Linked DNA regions of Homo sapiens. The protein of the gene in region 2 purifies or fractionates together with the protein of the main gene of each other region. This does not show direct contact. Each region holds a gene or a part of one and is shown on either strand. Other genes may lie near its edges.

Region 1 (3,500 bases), on a different chromosome or scaffold from region 2:
GTCATACCCAGAAGTGTTCTGCCCAGGCAAAGGCCCCCTCTTCTGAGTGCATGGATCCCCTGGCTGGTGGATTCTGTATCCTCCAAGTGCCTGCTTGCTTCCTTAGGTCACCAAGAAGTTCTACTCAATGGGCTGCTACGAGATCTCCCTGGGGGACACCATTGGTGTGGGCACCCCAGGGATCATGAAAGACATGCTATCTGCTGTCATGCAGGAAGTGCCTCTGGCTGCCCTGGCTGTCCACTGCCATGACACCTATGGTCAAGCCCTGGCCAACACCTTGATGGCCCTGCAGGTAATCAAAAGCATATGCCCATTCTCCCAAAGGTCACGGTGGGCAGGACAGCTTGTTATCATTTATTCTTTCAGCAAACATTTACTGATGCCAGTATGCCAGGTTCCAAGCTGGCAATGGTGGACACAGTCATGGTGACCCTGCCCAGATGTGAAGTGTACAGCTCTGTGTTGGGGAGACAGTCAAGGGAGTTACATGGCAATCCCACTGCATTATGACAGATGCCATGAAGGGAGGAAGCATGGGGCTCAGGAAGCCTAGAGGGGCCCCATCCCAGCTGAGGAGATCTGGGAGGATTTGCAAAAGAGGCCTCAGTGAAGCTTGAAGAACATAAAGTAAGCTGCTGTTGAGGGAAGAGGAAAGATGACTAGGCAGAATTGCACCTCAGGACTGATGTGGGGTTCAGGGAGGACTCATACAATATACAGGGTTTTCAGTGTGCGGGTGTGTAGCAGAAGCAGATGAGGAAGCAGGAGGTAGAGAAGCTAGCAGAGGTCACTCAGAGGGAGAGGCTTTAATGCCGTTCCCCACAGATTGAGCTAAGACCTCAGATTAGTTTCCTTTGAGGTTTGCTTCTCGTGGGCTGGTCCAGAATGGAGATCCATTGGCTGGCAGCCAGATAGAAGGAGCATTCTTAGTGTCTGACCACAGCTACCTTGCTGTAGCATTGGCCTAACCTTCCATCTCTAGGATAGTGATGGCAGTTCCAGCCACTTTTTTTTTCCTCTCAATTATCCCCTAGAGGTTCGTGTCTAAGCCAGGTGAGTCTGTTATGTTCTGGGTCGGTTTCCTCAGAGTTGTGGCTGTCAAGGTTAAGGTTCGTAGTTCTGTGGTCTCCTCATTTTTCAGCTTACTGTGATACCCTGCCCTGGTTCCTGGGCTTTCCTTCAGCTCATGCGTTTCCCAGCCAGGCAGACAGGAAGAGTGACTTCCTCTCCTATGCCTTGCCAGGCAGGTAAAGGGGAATTCTGCACAGCTGAGGTGAGTCTGAGGCAAAACTTCATCCTGATCACGCTCAGGACACTCCTGCTCCTCTGTGCTTCTCTGTTTCATGGCAGTGATATCTCAGAATCCCCTTTTTGAAAATTTATCAGGGAACAGGTTGAGCTGTGTGACGTCTGGCAGTAGCTTCCTCTGACCTCCCTCTTCCATCAGTTACTTCGGAAATATGGATCGATGTGCCAGGTTAAGTGCTGACTTAGACAATGGTAACAAGACCCAATCCCTGCCCTCTGGGAGCTCATGTTATGGTGGGTGGGGAAGACAGATGGAAGATTACAGGCGTGTAAATAGCACATTGTAAGACCATTTATTCACCTATTAAAACCTAACCTAACGGTGCCTAGTGTGCTAGGCACTGTTCTCAGCATTAAGGATTCAGCTGTGACCAAAACAGAGTCTCTGCCCTCATGAGGCTGACACTCTAGTACTATGAGACAGATAATAAATAAACAAACATACAGCAGGCCAGGTGTTCATAAACACTGTGGAGAAAAAATGAAGCAGGTTAAGGCAGTGCCAGGCCTTTCTGTAGAGTGGCCTCACTCAGAAGGTAGCATTTGAGAGAGACCTGAGGGAAGCGAGGGAGTGAGCCCTGCGGATCCCTAGCAGGGAGGGGGAGGGAAGGGAGCCCCACCCAGGAAAGCAGGCGCAGAGCCCTGAGGGAGGAGTGTGCTTGCTGTGTTCAGGGATCAGGAGGAGGCATGTGGCGGGAGCAGTGTGACTGAGGAGAGGGGGGCAGAGATGTCAGGGTTAGAGGAAGGCCAGATCGGGGGCCTTGTAGGACTTTGACTCTTTCAGACTGAGCTGGGAAGCTAACAGAGAGTCTTGAGCAGGGGCGGGGAGGGAGATGATCTGAAATGTTCCGTTTGAGAGGCTCCTCGGCTGGGCACAGTGGCTCACACCTGTAATCCCAGCACTTTGGGAGGCTGAGGCAGGTGGATCACTTGAGGTCAGGAGTTTTGAGACCAGCCTGGCCAACATGGTGAAACCCTGTCTCAACTAAAAATATAAAAATTAGCTGGGCGTGGTGGCGTGAGCCTGTAATCCCAGCTATTTGCGAGGCTGAGGCATGAGAATCACTTGAGCCCGGGAGGTGGAGGTTGCAGTGATTTGCAGTGAGCTGAGATGGCGCCAGTGCACTCCAGCCTAGGCAACAGAGTGAGACTTCTTATCAAAAAAAAAAAAGAGGCTCCTCTGGGTGCTGTGTAGAGAATACACTGTAGAGAGAAGAACCAGTTTGGAGCCTACAGCAATCCAGGTGAGAGACATGGCAAGGAGGCCTGGAGGGCAGAGGTGCGTGACCGGATCTCAGCAGTTCGTGTTCTGATCTGTGAAGCTCGAGACATCTATAGGCAGGTGTGTTAACCTGGGTGCAGTTAACTGGGAGTGAGTGGAGATAGAGAAGCTGTCTGAGGAATGAGCAGTAAGGGCTCCAACCGAGATCAGGGAGGTGAGGAAGAGCCAGCAAAGACTGGATCGAGGCCTCAGGAGAGGCTAGAGCACTAGGAGGAAAACCAAGGGATGTGGAGCCCTGGAAGCCACATGGAGAAGGTGTCCAAGATGATGCGGCTAGTCAAGTGCAAAGATGAAGAGACTTGACCTTTGTACTTAGCTACATGGAGGCCACCAGTGGCCTTGACTAGAGCTGTTTCAGTGGAGGAGTTGTGGGGACGCAAACCTGTTTCGAATGGGTTCAAATGAGAATGGTAGATGTTAAATGGGAACAGCTCTTTTGAGGGACTTTGCTTTGAATGGGGGGAAAGAAATTGGAGGTTAGAGGGTTCCAAAAAGGTTTGTAAAAGATGGGAGAGATCGCAGGCTGTGTGAAGATGACCCAGTGGAGGGGAGTAACAGGTTGCAGCAGAGAGGGAGAGACTTACTGGAGCACATCCTGAAGCAGGTGGGAATGGGCCTCACGCCAAGGTGGAGGGGTTGGCCTTGGCTAGGAGCTCAGGGTCCATCTCAGGCAGCATGAGGGACAGTGGGTCTGTAGGCCCAGATGTAGGCAGGTGGGTAGATGTGATGGTGGGAATCAATGGAGACATCTCTTGATTGCATCCATTTCCATAAAGCAGCAGATGAGAATGAGGATGGGGAAGGGGGTGATAGAGGTTTAAGAAGAGAGGAGAAAGTGAAATAGTCATTTGGGATAGTGGGAGGTGACTGACCTGGGAAGATGGGATGTGGCCCTCGTGTGGCAAGG
Region 2 (3,500 bases):
AGAAACATAAGCATCTCTATGAACTAAATGTGCTACGCAGAGGGAAACTTGTATCAATGACAGCATCAGTTCTTAATCACATTCACAAAAAACTTGCCCTGTCTTTCTAAACTGTTATAGAGCCTCGTTCTCCAAACCCCCAATGCAGCCAAAAGGATTCATTGCCCCAAACCCATCAGGCTTTCCCACCTCTGTGCAAAATTCTTCTCGAAATGGTTAGAACCTTCTCTCCTTTGAGGACCAGCTAAAGCCCCAGAAACATCATAAATTCTTAAAGAGTTAAGGTGGAAAAGTATCTTTCCTTCTTCTAAACCAATACAAAAGCCATCCACAGAATTCATATAATAATTTATACATATTGCCTTCTGATACTGTTTTCATTGCAGATTGGAGTGGTGGGTACACAGGTCAGTTGCGTTCAAAGCAGAGCTCATGACTTCACAGCTGTGTGATTATAGGTGTGTTTCCTAGCCATCCTATGCCCCGGTTTCCTTACCCACGAAATGAAGATAAAAAAAGGAGCCATATCATATATTAGGATGACTTGAAAAATGTATAGAAAGCACTTAGTTCAGAATCTGCAACCATTAAGTCTTTTGTTGGTTGCACATTATATGCTGTGTCCAATTCATTATGAGCTCGCTGAAGACAGAGACAACAAAATCCTCCTCACTGTATCCCCTATAAAGACCAGCACAGCACCTACAAGCAGCTGGGCCTCATTTGCTGTTTTCTCTACGTGCAGAGCAGTTCGTATTGTGAGTTAATCAGGTAAATTCAACTTCACAGAAAAACACAAAACAAAAAATACCTCTACATCAGTACCCGTTCAAATACCTGCATACATGAACAACGTATGTTGGAATTTTATCAGACTAACCCAGTATCAGGAAAGGCCCATTTTTTTTTTTTTTTTTTTTTTTTGAGACAGTCTCTCTCTCTGTCGCCCAGGCTGGAGTACAGTGGCACGATTTCAGCTCACTGCAAGCTCCGCCTCCCAGGTTCACACCATTCTCCTGCCTCAGCCTCCCAAGTAGCTGGGACTACAGCTGCCTGCCACCACGCTCGGCTAATTTTTTGTATTTTTTTTTAGTAGAGACGAGGTTTCAGTGTGTTAGCCAGGATGGTCTCCATCTCCTGACCTCATGATCCGCCTGCCTCGGCCTCCCAAAGTGCTGGGATTACAGGCGTGAGCCACCGCGCCCGGAGGAAAGGCCCATTTTAAACTGCTTTGCTTTCAGGTTCTTTGATTTAAATGTGTTTTAATTTCAAATATAAGTTTACTTTCACTGGAAATTAAATTTACTTTAAATTACATCTGCTCAAATTATATAATACTTGCACATTTAACTCAGTACCTGGCACTCAAGAGATCTATAAATACTTGCTACTATTTTTTTCATAGTATGATCCATAAAGTTAAAAGAAAAACAGGATCTAGAGAACAAAAAAAAAAAACCACACAACACATAGAGAAAAAAACTGGCATGCGTCAAAATGTATGAGTATTATGCACTAGTACTATGAACAGTTCTTGTTTACTTTCCCCCAGAGTTTTCAGCAAAGAACCTGTGTTTCCTTTATAATTACAGGAGAAATCAACAGGTTTATAAAATACCCATCCCAAATGTAATACATACAGCCTTCCAAACTATCTTGCATTTTACCAGCTAATAATAGTTTATTTTACCACTCTGGTGACTTGCCTAAGTAGATGCAGGGGAGCCTGTTTTGCATGGCAATTTCTTGGGCCCGTAATTGTTTTTTCACAGTCACTGGGTAGTAGGCACCTCCTTTGACGGTGGCATCATTGGCAATAATCATGCATTCTACTCTGAAAGGCAGAAATTTCATTGGAGAGAGAATTTAAGAGATTTCTTCAAAACTAATTACACTCATTACAAGATACCCCAATACAACCTTCAACTTCTAGTACGTATCACTATTAACATCCATTAGCAGACAGCAGTCTTAGGATATAAATGCAAACTTTAATCACAGTTCACATATTAATTTATATAATACAAAACAATTACTTCTAACAAGTTTATAAACTCACACTTGGTTTTTGAAAAGTCATCAGTCCTAGATTAGTAATAAAAAACTAACAACCTAAGCCTTGTGTCATAATGGTTCTTTGAATGAAAAGGTCCTAATAAGATGAAAATAATAATGAAAAAAAAAATCCAAGTCTCAAGGGAAAAGAATTCCCTCATAATAAACCTTCAAAGTCTCCTTTTAGGAGGGTATTTTGCAAAAATGAAAACTGACCTTTAGTACTAAGATTTATTTTTTGTATTCTTGTTCTTCAACATTACAGCCCCATGGTTTTCTACAAAACTAAATGTAGTCTAAAATATAACGTTCATCTTAACTGAAGTCAGAATGAATGCAAACTTTAATATACTAAAAACACATGAAAGGTATCCTGAGTCATCAACAGTGCCCTTTCTCACCAAAACCAGTTTATTGGGTATGAGTCACAAAGAGCAGGGCGGCCAACAACCACAGCTGGTTGGGGAAACTGTACAGCACTGGCAGGAAACCTTAAGGTCAGAGGTACCCTTGAAATCTGAGATGACAACAGTGTGCTCTTTACAAAATTCAATTTTCTTTATGTTTCTGATGTTTGTGTTACCTCACTTTATGCTGCCTACAACTCTAAAGAGTGAGTCATTAAATCCCTGCTGAAAATAGAGAACGGCAACTGAACACCCAGCACAGGGTAGTGTTGAGCTTCTCATACTAGGATATGTGGCCAGCAGGGCTCGCCACAAGACAAACAGGACTCTTCTTTGAGCATCAATTTTATTCCCTAGGTCATATAAAACCTTTTTCTGCACTGCAATGAACATTTTATAGAGTAGAATGCAAACTTTTAATGATTTAACATTAAACGAACTAGACTTCAAAGGAAATGTAGGCTTCTCATAGGTTGCTGGGCCATAACCTCACACTCCAGAGTGTGTGCTCATACTTCCTACCACTGGGGGTGCTACGCTAGAAAGTTTAAGAAGCTCTGGTACTGGAAAGAGGCCAGGCTGTGAAGTCAGACAAAGTTAGACTGAAATTCTGGCTCTGCCAACTTGTTAGTTATGTGACCATGGACAAGGGACATAGCCATATCTGCTTGTCTATTAAAGGTCACAGACTTGTTACAGAATGAGAAATCAAATTGGCCCACAAAAATACTAGATTGCATTTCTATTGGTTTTGCCTACCCAGCATCTATTATTTTGGCAACAAAACTAAACCTTCTTTCAGAAACTGCCTCTTATCTTTAATCCAGGTGGCTCAAGTAGGACTGACCCCAGAGCCTGCCTTAAAGGGGGGCACAGGGACCAGGTCTTTCTACCCAGAGTTCCCACTGAGGCTCGGCAATGGGACAGGCTCTAAGCCTAAGCAGATCTTGCCTTCCACTGCAGCTGCTAAACTTATAGAATATAAACCAGGAACTGCCTATGACCATCACTGCCTCTGGATTTAGAGAGGCTGCCTAG
Region 3 (3,500 bases), on a different chromosome or scaffold from region 2:
GGAAGTTGCTGGCTCTCAGCACCTTTGGATCACACAAATGCCTCATGTCCATCCTTGCTGAGCCTTGCCGCACATGTGCTGTTAACACCCAAGGTCCCCAGCTGTGCCCACCTGACTCTGCCCCTCACCCCCTGGGCTCCAGCTACAGTGCCCTCCCATGGTGACTCCCTGAACACAGGGAGGCCTCTGCCCTGTTAGGGCCTTGCCATTTGCTGTTCCTTCTCTCTTGAAGGTCTTCCCCCAGATCTCTTCTCTCCACCCAGGGAAGAAGGATACAGTGGGAGGGAGCATGAAGGGTCAGGAACAAATTCCAGGAAGTGAGCATGGATGGAAATTCATGTTGAGAAGACTGAGTCTTAGAGACGAAAGCTCCCTACAGCATCATATTGGGGCAAAGCTGGATTGGAGACCAGGTGTGCCTTATGGGCAGCTTGTGTTGGTCACAGCCCGGGATGCTGCCTCTGGTGCAGCCTTTCTGGAAGGCTCCAGTGCTCACATTCTAATCACAGGGACATGGGCTTGACACCTGACTCTTTCAAATATTCCAGGAGCTTCTGTTTCACTTATTAAGTGTTGACAATGAGCCCCTAGAAGAGTCAGACTGAACTGGCCAGATCCCAGGGCCCCAGTTGCAGAGGAAGGAGCAGCAAGAAGACAACAGAAAGCTCCAAGACGAGATAGAACCAACACTGCACCTGGAGCCAAAACAGACACCCACAGAGGGCTGGCGCTGCCCAACTCTGGGGAGTGTGATTTGCAGAACACATGTGCACGGCACAACCTGCCCAACTGGATGGCAGCCCTGAAGTTGCCTCTTACCCGCACAGCCTCCGCAGTAACCAGCTCTGCCTCTGTCAGCTCAAGGACACTGCTGGCTGCCCCCTTAAAGAAGTTCGAGGCCAGGATCATTTTGCCATCCTCCAGCTGAATATTCTTCACCAGCAGCTGCAAAAGGAAGGATTTCTTTTCTTTTCTTTTCTTTTTTTGAGACAGAGTCTTGCTCTGTTGCCCAGGCTGGAGTGCAGTGGTGCGATCTCGGCTCACTACAACCTCCGCCTCCCGGGTTGAAGCGATTCTCCTGCCTCAGCCCTCCTGAATAGCTGGGATTACAGGCGCGCACCACCATGCCCGACTAATTTTTGTTTGTATTTTTAGTAGAGACGGGGTTTCACCACATTGGTCAGGCTGGTCTCGAACTCCTGACCTCATGATCCATCCACCTTGGCCTCCCAAAGTGCTGGGATTACAGGCATGAGCCACTGCGCCCGGCCAAAAGGAAGGATTTCACAGTTCCTGTGGTCGGACCTGAGGCAGTGATGAAGGTGTCCCACAAGGGGTGCTGTGCTGGGCGCTCCAGCCTTGTCTCCAACCTTCAGATGAGGAAGAAGCAGGGAGTCTCAGATTAGTGATGAGTTCAGAGTGGGGAGGCCACTATTCCAGGGACACAGAGGGAATTGCAGAGCTTGTGTCCCCTACCAGCTGCTCGATTTTCCATCACCCACTCCCACCACACTTTCACTTTGTTTTTAAGTGTAATGACTTTATTACTTCTATAAAAAAGGATTCCTACTGAACAAAAAAAGAAAACGTCATTCAGGCACCACATAGAAAGTCAACTTAGAAAAAAAAACTAATCTTGCAATCACCCAGTAGCTCCCAGAACTGCCACAGAAACACCTGGAGAACATCACCAGATGCCTGTGTGGGATACAGAGGTGGGAAGAGGAGAGGCTGAAAAAGGGTCTGGCCGGCCCTGCAGTCTGCAGCTTCAGGATAGCACTTCAAGCTGGTCCCAGGTAGAGCCTGCGTCCAGCCATCAGTTCAAGGGGATTCTGGCTGCCAGACATGAACTGCCCCCATTGTAGCTCATGACTCTGGGCTACTCTAGTGTCTGCCTCAGATTTACTGTATTTAATAAGATGTTTGAATTGTTTGGGGCCTGCTTGTTTATCAATAGTTTTTCAACAAATGCTTTTGTTAGGGGCCAGGAAAAAAAACACATGTACAAAAAGAGTTATGGATAAGCTCATGGGTGGGTGCATGTCACTGTGCGTTAAGAGTGGCTGTGTAAGAATGGTACTCTGTATGCATGCTCTGCCAGAACTGGAACTTGCCTCTCGGCCTGACCCTCGCCCCATTGCCTTTCAAAGATGTTCTGGAGCTTTCTGCAAGCTAAAGCCCAGCCAGACTCCACAGGGCGTGGCTGAGAGATGCTTCAACCCAGGGTCTTCTGGGTTGATCTGTGGGGAGCAGGGTGTGTGTGCTCAGCTGGTCTCTCCTCACTCCCCTCCCACCCTGACCACCTCTGGACAGTGGACAAAGCTCTTGTGAGAGAGCTGATAACCCCAGCTTCCTCTTAAGACACTTAATTGCCTTCTTTGCATTCCTGTCTTTGCAGGTCTCTGGACAGATGCTGTGGGTGCCCTGCTCAGACCCCTGTGGCTGGTGCCCTGTCCTCCAGCTGCAGCAAGGGCTGGATGATAACGGCCTGCACTGTCCCATCCTTGCTTGCTGTGGATGGATAAGAGCTCCTGTACACAAAGAGGCCGAGGGATTATGCCTGGTGGGTCCTCCACCCCACCCCAGGGGCCACTGAAACCAAAGGCTGACAGAGGTGGGGACAGGCAGGTATAATTGGAGGGTGCAGTTAATACTCCAAAACCCACCCTGGGAGCAGCCCCAGGCTAGACTTCTCCTGAACCTTTACTTTTGCTTTGCTTTCCTCTGCCCTTACTGCCTCGCATGATTTTCTGGAACATTCCCTCAATAAATCACTTGCACAAGAATTTTTACCTTAGATGCTGCTTCTAGGGAACCTGACCACAGACAGATATTCTCTTGCAACTGCATATATCAATCTTGGATACCCAAAACACTACATTGCAGACATCAACAGCAGCCTAGACCTTCTGACAGGGGAGCATGGCAGACTGGACACCAAGAGCGAGCAAAGGCCAGGCCCCATACTGCCACGCCTCACTCTGGTAGGCCGGACACAGCAACACGGCTGGGGGTACCACGCCCATGGGGTTTGTCCGGACCCTGTCAGTGTGTGGGAAGATCCCTGCCTGCCCTCTCCCTACCCCCGGCTGCTCATGTGAGAAGGAGTAGTAGAGTGCATATGAACAGGAAGCTACCATGGCCAAGACCAGCATCACGGCTTTGGAGCCAGAATTTCAGAGTCTGAATCCCAGCTCTGCCACGGGCTAGCTTGGATGATCCTGGACAAGTTATTTAAATCTCTGTTTTTTTCCTCTATAAGGATATAATATTTATACATATCTCATAGTGTTGTTAGGCAGATTAAATTTAACGCATATACATTGTTCTGGTATAAAAGGTGCTCCATCAGTGTTTGCTGGTACCGTGAGTTGTAGTCTGCTAATAACAAGAGCAGGTGGCCGGCATGGCTCCCAAGGCTCTGCACGTGCTAAGTTACCATGGCATCGCCGTTCAAAGAGATGGGAGCTGAGGCACAGAGGCTTAATGACCCCACACCC
Region 4 (3,500 bases), on a different chromosome or scaffold from region 2:
AATTAGCCGGGCGTGGTGGTGGGCGCCTGTAATCCCAGCCATTTGGGAGGCTGAGGCAGAGAACTGCTTAAATCCAGGAGGCAGGGGATGCAGTGAGCTGAGATCGCGCCACTGTACTCCAGCCTGGGTGACAGAGCAAAACTCCGTCTCAAAAAAATAAAAATAAAAATAAATAAAAATAAAAAATTGGGCCGGGCACAGTGGCTCATGCCTGTAATCCCAGCACTTTGGGAGGCCGAGGTGGGCGGATCACCTGAGGTCGGGAGTTCGAGACCAGCCTGACCAACATGGAGAAACCCCCGTCTCTTACTAAAAATACAAAATTAGCTGGGCGTGGTGGCACATGCCTGTAATCCCAGCTACTAGGAAGGCTGAGGCAGGAAAATCGCTTGAACCTGGGAGATGGAGGTTGCAGTGAGCCGAGATCACACCACTGCACTCCAGCCTTGGCAACAAGAGAGAAACCCCGTCTCAAAAAAAAATAAAATAAATAAATTTAAAAAATAATAATAATAATAAAGATATGAGCTGGCATGAGTTAAAGTATATATAATAGGAAAAAAAAAAACAAAAGTTGGTTCTTTGAAAAAATTAAGATTACTTTGTACCCCATAAATATATACAATTATAAATTGTCGGCCAGGCTCAGTGGCTCACGCCCATAATCCCAAAAAAAAAAAAAATTGGCTGGGCACAGTGGCTTACGCCTGTGATCCCAGCACTTTGGGAGGCTGAGGTGGGCGGATCACCAGGTCAGGAGATCGAGACCATCCTGGCTAACATGGTGAAACCCCATCTCTGCTAAAAATACAAAAAATTAGTTGGGCATGGTGGCACACACCTGTAGTCCCAGCTATTCAGGAGGCTAAGGCAGGAGAATCGCTTGAACCTGGGTGGTGGAGGTTGCACTGAGCTGAGATCGCACCACTGCACTCCAGCCTGAGCAACAGAGGGAGATTCCATCTCAATAAAAAATAAAAATTAAAAATAAATAAAAAACTAGCCAGCCCTGGTGTCAGGCACCTATAATCCCAGCTACTCAGGAGGCTGAGGCAGGAGAATTGTTTGAACCCAGGGGGCAGAGGTTGCAGCGAGCCAAGGTCACGCCACTTCACTCCAGCCTGGGCAAAAGAGCAAAACTCTGTCTCAAATAAAAACATTAAAGATATTAACTATGAATAAATTAGGAAACTACAAGTCCAGACAGATCTGGTCTGTGGCTTAAATAACTAGAAATAATGTCGACATCTCTATCCACCCATCCACCTTAGGCCCTCCTCACTTTAAATCTATGATTACAAAATAGAAAACTCGGCTGGGTGCAGTGGCTCATGCCTGTAATGCCAGCACTTTGGGAGGCCGAGGCAGGTGGATCACTTGAGGTCAGTAGCTCAAGACAGGGCTGGCCAACATTGTGAAACCCCATCTCTACTAAAAATACAAAAATTAGCCAAGCGTGGTGGCACATGCCTGTAGTCCCAGCTATTCAGGAGGCTGAGGCAGGAGAATCAATCACTTGAACCCGGGTGAGCCAAGATCGCGCCACTGCACTCCAGCCTAGCCAACAGAGCTAGATTCTGTCTCAAAAATAAAAATTAAAAATAAAATAAAATAAAATAGAAAATTCAGTCTCTGGAGGAAATATACAAAAAGCCATAAGGTGGCAATGTTAAAGTCTGCACATATGCAATCTCTTCATATAATATTCAAAAACAGTAAATCTGCCTATTTAGCTTCCCTCTATTTAAGCTTAATAACCTTTCTACTTACTACTGCACTGTTCTATCCCTCCCTCTCCCTTCACTTTCAAGTGGGCCATAAAACACAACTGAGGCATATTCATATTCACCTGGATATAATTTTATTAACATTAAAATCTGGTAAATGTTTATCTCTCCCACAAAATTAAATCTATATAGCTCTCAACTAGTTTTTCCTATGCCCCCATGAACCTTGAAAGAAACCCAAAGTTCAGCACCCCAGCTGACAATATAAAATGCTTAGACGGGAGTCATTCTTTGAGACGGAGTCTCATTCTAAAATTCTTTGAGACAGAGTCTCGCTCTGTTGCCCAGACTGGAGTGCCGTGGCACAATCTCCACTCACTGCAAGCTCCACCTCCCGGGTTCATGCCATTCTCCTGCCTCAGCCTCCCGAGTAGCTGGGACTACAGGTGCCCGCCACCATGCCCGGCTAATTTTTTGTATTTTTAGTAGAGACGGGGTTTCACCGTGTTAGCCAGGATGGTCTCGATCTCCTGACCTCGTGATCCGCCCGCCTCAGCCTCCCAAAGTGCTGGGATTACAAGCGTGAGCCACCACGCCCGGCTAGGAAAATGTGTTTTTAAAAGTGATGTGATGACACAAAAATTACTTCCATTGCTTGATATGGTTTAATAGAATCAACCTTTATAGTCTCCAATGCCGTGAATAAGTTAAATAAGTCTAATGACTTGACTTTAGACTTCAAGTCATATATATATGAAACATCAAGTCATATATAATTAAGATGCTAACTTCCCCCAGATAAAGAGACAAAGTATTTTTCATCAGTTCTCCAATTTAAAGCAAGGCTATAATATTTTATTAAAAATATCTATTTTGGCCATGGTACCTCCTGCCTACAAGCCCAGCACTTTGGGAGGCTGGGACCAGCAGTTTGAGACCAGCCTGGGCAACATACTGAGAACCTGACTCTACTAGAATTTGAGACAGAGTTTCGCTCTTGTTGCCTGGAATGCAATGGCGCAATCTCGGCTCACCGCAACCTCCACTTCCCGGGTTCAAGCGATTCTTCTGCCTCAGCCTCCTGAGTAGCTGGGATTACATGCGTGCGCCACCATGCCCAGCTAATTTTGTATTTTTAGTAGAGACGGGGTTTCTCCATGTTGGTCAGGATGGTCTCGAACTCCCAACCTCAGGTGATCCACCTGCCTTGGCCTCCGTTATGTGCTGGGATTACAGGCATGGGCCACCGCACCAGCCAGAAATTTTTAAACATTAGGCCAGGCATGGTGGCTCACACCTGGAATCCTAACAATTTGAGAGGCCAAAGGAGGAGGATCACTTAAGCCCAGGAATTCAAGAACAGCCTGGGCAACACAGTGAAACCTTATCTCTCCAAAAAGTTTTTTTAATTAGCCAGGCATAGTGGCGAACACCTGTGTGGTCCCAGCTACTTAGAAGGCTGCAAGAAAAAGTATGCTTAAGCCCAGGAGGTCAAAGCTGCAATGAGTTGTGATCAGGCCACTACACTCCAGCCTGGGTGACAAAGTGAGGCCTTCTCTCAAAAAAAAAAAAAAAAAAAAATACACACACACACACACACACACACTCATGCACGATATAATGACATTTCAGTCAATGACAGATCAGTAAGATTATAATGGAGCTGACAAATTCCTATCACCTAGCGATGTCGAAGCCACTGTAAGGATGTAGCACAAAACATTACTCACTTGTTTGTGGTAATGCGGTGTAAACAAACCTACCGCACTGCAA

Evidence for each region. The genes of interacting proteins can lie anywhere in the genome.
Region 1: the proteins of MCCC2 (region 2) and HMGCL fractionate together in Homo sapiens (co-fractionation; one large-scale study listed by BioGRID). This does not show direct contact.
Region 3: the proteins of MCCC2 (region 2) and ALDH1L1 purify together in Homo sapiens (co-immunoprecipitation; one large-scale study listed by IntAct). This does not show direct contact.
Region 4: the proteins of MCCC2 (region 2) and YTHDF2 fractionate together in Homo sapiens (co-fractionation; one large-scale study listed by BioGRID). This does not show direct contact.

What each region holds. Positions count from the first base shown.
Region 1 is NC_000001.11:23,804,930-23,808,429, reverse strand, and holds part of HMGCL (hydroxymethylglutaryl-CoA lyase, mitochondrial isoform 1 precursor), read left to right. Parts: intron 1-106; coding exon 107-295; intron 296-3,500. UniProt on the Homo sapiens protein: Mitochondrial 3-hydroxy-3-methylglutaryl-CoA lyase that catalyzes a cation-dependent cleavage of (S)-3-hydroxy-3-methylglutaryl-CoA into acetyl-CoA and acetoacetate, a key step in ketogenesis. Terminal step in leucine catabolism.
Region 2 is NC_000005.10:71,600,840-71,604,339, reverse strand, and holds part of MCCC2 (methylcrotonoyl-CoA carboxylase beta chain, mitochondrial isoform 1 precursor), read right to left. Parts: intron 1,835-3,500; coding exon 1,707-1,834; intron 1-1,706. UniProt on the Homo sapiens protein: Carboxyltransferase subunit of the 3-methylcrotonyl-CoA carboxylase, an enzyme that catalyzes the conversion of 3-methylcrotonyl-CoA to 3-methylglutaconyl-CoA, a critical step for leucine and isovaleric acid catabolism.
Region 3 is NC_000003.12:126,149,587-126,153,086, forward strand, and holds part of ALDH1L1 (cytosolic 10-formyltetrahydrofolate dehydrogenase), read right to left. Parts: intron 946-3,500; coding exon 820-945; intron 1-819. UniProt on the Homo sapiens protein: Cytosolic 10-formyltetrahydrofolate dehydrogenase that catalyzes the NADP(+)-dependent conversion of 10-formyltetrahydrofolate to tetrahydrofolate and carbon dioxide.
Region 4 is NC_000001.11:28,760,940-28,764,439, reverse strand, and holds part of YTHDF2 (YTH domain-containing family protein 2), read right to left. Parts: intron 1-3,500. UniProt on the Homo sapiens protein: Specifically recognizes and binds N6-methyladenosine (m6A)-containing RNAs, and regulates their stability. M6A is a modification present at internal sites of mRNAs and some non-coding RNAs and plays a role in mRNA stability and processing.